Linked DNA regions of Homo sapiens: region 2 is linked to region 1. Evidence: fine-mapped expression QTL. Tissue or cell type: blood mononuclear cells. Region 1 holds a variant in brackets; the other region holds the start of a gene. All regions are shown on one strand. Distances are between the middles of the regions.

Region 1 (2,758 bases):
CAGCAGGCATGTTTTTTCATTTTGTTTTATTTTGAGACGGAGTTTTGCTCTTGTCTCCCAGGCTGGAGTGCAATGGTGTGATCTCAGCTCACTGCAACTTCTGCCTCCCGGGTTCAAGCAATTCTGCTGCCTCAGCCTTCCAAGTAGCTAGGATTACAGGCATGCACCACCATGCCCAGCTAATTTTGTATTTTTAGTAGAGACAGGGTTTTACCATGTTGGCCAGGCTGGTCTCAAACTCCTGACCTCAGGTGATCCACCCTCCTTGGTCTCCCAAAGTGCTGGAATTACAGGCATGAGCCACCATGCCCGGCCCAGGAGCAGGCATGTTTTGTTCCTGGCTTCACACCGTGACCCCAGTGGTGAGAGTTTGGTGCCCCTTCTCAGTGACTTAGGCCTTTTACTTTGTATGAGAATAGGGTTTGGGGGAAATGGATGATGGCATTTGTTTCTATTTCCTTGTGGCAACTAATCACCTCCTGAATACCTGTGCTACTGGGAGTGGATCTATATGATCTTCTCCCTTTGATCCTCCTGTTTCTTCTGAGTACCTCCTGGAGGCCGTGAAGTAAAACTTGTGCATGAGTGCAGACTCTCCTTATGGCTAGGGTTTTCAGTTATCCTAAATATATCCTAGCCCACGTTTGGCCTTTAAGAATTTGTTAAAATTTTACTTATTTTCATCTTACTTGCTTCTCTTGTGGTTACCTCTTCTTTTTATGCTCTGCCAAAAGTGAGACAGTTCCTGTGTATCACCTCTCCTCAGAGGGCCTTTTCAGTCTTTGGAATTAGTTCCCCTGATCTCTGTTCTCTGATGTATGGTCTTACAGATTATCTGTTTTTTGTATTGTTAAGGTAGTAGCAATGTTCTATTGCAGCTTTCTAAATTTTAAATAAAAGTAGAACCGAAAAGTTTTTTAATGAATTAATCATACGATTAGAATGGTACTTTAGAAGTATTAATCAGATAGTGTATAAAACGGATTTGAGGTCGGACGTGGTGGCACACGCCTGTAATCCCAGCACTTTGGGAGGCCGAGGCTGGTGGATCACGAGGTCAGGAGATCAAGACCATCCTGGCCAACATGGTGAAACCCTGTCTCTACTAAAAACAAAAAATTACCTGGGCGGGGTGGCAAGTACCTGTAGTCCCAGCTACT[C/A]GGGAGGCTGAGGCAGGAGAATCACTTGAACCTGGGAGGCAGAGGTTGCAATGAGCTGAGATTGCACCACTGCACTCCAGCTTGTCATCAGAGTGAGACTCTGTCTCAAAAAATCAAAAAAAACAAACAAAAAAAACCAGATTTGAGATGATATGGCCTGTCCTCTACCTGGAATATTTTCACCTGTTTATTTTCCCTTTGAAGACTGAACACCTCAGGTGGGCAGCTCGGGAAGCCATTAGACATCATTATGTAAATATCCTTCACTTGAGTTCCTATAGCGTTCCTTGTCCACTTTTTGGAACACCAACCAGCTTTTAGACAGTTATCTCCCCAAAGGGAGATATAGTATTTAGCCCAAATTTGTCTTATAAATAAAACGGTATATAACTTCAGCTGTGTGAATTCTAAAATATAAGCTAAAAGATGGCTTTTAAAGTCATACTACCATATTGTTTCATATGTAAGAATAGTAAAATGAATTTACCTAAGTTTAAATTTTTAGCACAGAACATTGCTGAAAAAAATCCTCCTTTTAATGTTAGGGTAAAATATTACTATATTGACCCACCTACAAAATAAAAAACATATTTATTCTGCCAGATTTTTCTGTTGATTTCAGATACGATCATACTGACACATTCTTTTTTTTTTTTTTTTTTTTTTTTGAGACAGAGTTTCACTCTTGTCGCCCAGGCTGGAGTGCAGTGGTGCGATCTTGGCTCACTGCAACCTGCACCTCCCAGGTCCAAGCAATTCTCCTGTCTCAGCCTCCTGAGTAGCTGGGATTGCAGGTGCCTGCCACCATGCCCCAGCTAATTTTTAAATTGTTTAAAACGTAATCTGTTTATTTGGAGTGGCTATATTGTATATTGAGCCAGATTAGTAGCTAACAATTTTTTGAGTACTTACTTTGTATCAAGCACTGTCTTGCTTTCTTATGAGTCCTCTTTTTTAATCCTCACAGCAGCCCTTTGGGATAGATAAATTAAATAACTTGCCCAACATCACCTAGCTTAGAATGGGAGGAGCTGGGATCTGAACCCAGCAGTCTGTTCTAAGATTGGAAGCAGGCTTTGTTCTTAGTCACTGAGCTATTTTAGTTCCTTCAAAGTGAATTAAGATGTTGAATGAAAAGTTCTCAAGATTTGTATGAGTAGCGCAGATCACAGTTGAAAAGTGTAAGCTTAAGTACTATGCCAGAATTGGATATGTGGAGGGACAGTAAATATATGTCTCAGGGAATGGTGGAGACATTATGCAATTCAGAGGACATGAACATAATTCTCATTATTTTTTCCTACCAGTATGAAGTGAAGGCTCCTGTTCCTTCTGCCTGTTTCAGGAATATTTGTAAGCAAATGACAAAAATGCACGAAGCTATATTTGATCTCCTTCCAGAAGAACAAACACAGGTGAGAAGTAATTCCTAAAACTATTCATGTATATATAACATACAATATCTGTACAGAATTGGGGTGTTTTTACATGCTTTTGGCAGTTAAGCTGTTCATGTTCCAATATGATTATCATTTTTTTACATTGTTATATTGACTGGTAGAACATGGATAAAAATTTCTAATTTCTAAGTGCTCCTT
Region 2 (2,500 bases), 120 kb before region 1:
GGCCTGGGCAACAGAGCCAGACACAGTCTCAACAAAACAAAACAAAGAAAGTACTCTTTTAGCTATTCTGGAATATTAAATACATTGTTATTAACTGTGGTCATCGTGCTGTGCAATAGATCACTAAAATTTATTCCTCCTACCTGAAACTTTATACCCTTTGACTCACATTTCCCCTTTCCTCATCACCCTTTACCCCCCAGTCTTTGGTAACCACCATTCTACTCTGCTTCTATGTAAACTCATCTGGTTTTATAAGTGATCAGGGATTTAAGAGGACTTCACTCTTTTACAGTTAAATTTATTTCATATTGGGGAATGATTTTCTCACTTTGTTTCTTACATAATTTTAGAGGATTGAACTTAGAAAAATATAATGTAAGAGTTTTCTCTCAACTATTTTTGATGCTTCCTTACTTTTTGTCCTCTTTCCCCAACTTTAGCTCTTTGGTGGGGAAAATATTATTTCATAAAAGTTATGTTTGCAGTTTTCAAAGTGACTTCTTAGAAGTGAAACTTGGATCAACATTTTTTTCAACCCCCCAACTATAAGAGTTACATTTTCACTTTTGATTTGTTAAAACATACTATGTCTTATAAATGCTTGAAATTTATTTTTAGGCAAGAATTTCAACATTGAATAAAATCTTCCCAAAATTAAGTCACAAGCACTCAAAGGATTGAGGATCTTTTTCTTCCTAAAATATATGTGTGTGTGTGTGTGTGTGTGTGTCTTTATATTTATATACTAAGACCTTCCCTTTCTTGTGGACTGTGTTTTATTGGTTTAAAGTTGCAAGTCCTGTGAAACCAGGCTGAAGTCAGAATTAGAAGGTATTAATTATCATACACACTCCAAGTATCTCAGTCAAGTAACAGGAATAACTGATTACAGTGTCTGGGAGGAAGGCCTGGAACTTGGGGAAGACTTGGAGGGGAGGACTGGATGGGGAAAAGGCCTCAATAGAGAGAACTGGGTTGTTGCGGAGGGGTGACCTTTAACCTTTGGAAGGGCATTTACTAGGGAACAGCTGAAAAGCATTTACTTCGAGGGGGTGGGGGAGAGGAGGAATCTCGTGGAAGTATTTGCTTTAATAGGTCCCGGGTGATTTAGGGATGTTTCGAGTCGGTTGGTCTTGGGGGTGGCGAGGGCTACGCTGGAGGGGTCGCGTCCCAGTCCCGGGGAAGGCGGCAGGAGGTTTTCTGGGTGTTCCTGAAAACTGGGAGTTGGGGGGAAGGGTGGTGGGGAAAGTGGAATTCAGCGTGGATTTGTCTGCGTGTAGGACTATTAGAGGAGGCGCAGGGGAGCCACGCGGTGTATTCCCCGCCCCGAGAGAACTCTGGCTGCGCCTGCGACGGGCACGCCGGCCTGCGCCAAGGCCGCTTTCCCCAGGCGGCGGGCGCTCCCCCCGGCCCGGGCCGCGGCCCTCCCGCCCCGGCGGAGCCGCGCGGTGGATTGTGGGCTGGGGGCTGCGGCGGCCTCCGGCGCTGTCTCCCCGCACCCGACCGGGCCGAGCCGGCTGGGCCGGCGGGGTGAGGGAAAGCAGTGGAGTCGGGAGCAGAAGCGCTAGAGGCAGTGGTCGTGGCGCGGCGGCGGCGGCTCCCCTGGAGGCCGGGGATGTGGGAGAGGCGGTGGCAGCAGCGGCGGAGGCGGCGCTGCGGACCCGGGGGAAACTGCTGGCTGACAGGACACCCGGGAGAGACGTGAGGGAGCCGCCGCTGCCACCTCTCACCCCTGAGTGAAGCTGGGCTCGAGAGGGCGGCCCTGTGCTCCCCGGGCCGACTGGCCAGCGGGCGCGGGGCGGGGGCGGGAACCCGGGCTCGGGCCCGGCCGGGCGCCGGGCGGCGGCGGCCGTGGAGCAGCAGCCTCGGTGCGACGTGGAGGGCTGGAGGCGGCGGCGATGCACTAGGCCTCGCTCAGGGCGGCTGCCCCGGGACCCGCAGGTAGGTGTGCCCCGCGGCCCCCCGCGCGTCTCAGCCCACTCTCACCCCGACCTACAGCGGAGAGAGGGACCGAGACCCCACCCCCTCGGCTCTCCTCCCCAGCCCCAAACGGACCGAGTTTCGGTCACAGCTGACCGGCACTGAAGCTTCCATGCTCCTCTCCGCCACTTCCTTTTTTTTTTTTTTTTTTCCTTTTCACTCTCCCTCCGGGATCGGGGCTGGCAGCTGTGTTCCCTGCCTCCTGTCAGCGACCGCAAACGCCGCTCTTGCCCCTCTCTTATCTTTCCGGGATCCCAGCTCTGGAACTTCCATCACCCCCTTAGACGCTGCCCCCAAACTTTCCTTTTCTTTTTCCAGCCAGGCCCTTAGTCCTATTGGATTCTACTGGAATCGTTAAAACATTTGTTTGTTTTTCTCTCCGGGGAAGGCTAACCCAAAGAGTTACTCAGTATTTTGCATTTTGGCAATGTAGCTTGAAATAATTTGTGCAATAATTTTCTTCAGTTCTGCCTCCTTCCATCTCTGCATAGACAGAAAGGGCAGGCCCTCTCTGCCG

The links. PIP is the estimated chance that this variant, and not a neighbour inherited with it, causes the effect.
Region 2: VPS54 starts here. The variant in region 1 is fine-mapped to the expression of VPS54 in blood mononuclear cells (TOPMed, PIP 0.98).

What each region holds. Positions count from the first base shown.
Region 1 is chr2:63,899,291-63,902,048 of GRCh38, reverse strand. It overlaps VPS54 (VPS54 subunit of GARP complex), which reads left to right. Exons shown (of 23, transcript NM_016516.3): 21 at 2,468-2,575. Among named protein-coding and RNA genes, the nearest start is that of UGP2, 59 kb to the right of the region's middle. The variant C/A (reference allele first, on the strand shown) is at 1,161.
Region 2 is chr2:64,018,382-64,020,881 of GRCh38, reverse strand. VPS54 (VPS54 subunit of GARP complex) reads left to right here and starts at 1,454. Exons shown (of 23, transcript NM_016516.3): 1 at 1,454-1,944. RefSeq lists a silencer at 1,331-2,040 and an enhancer at 2,201-2,270.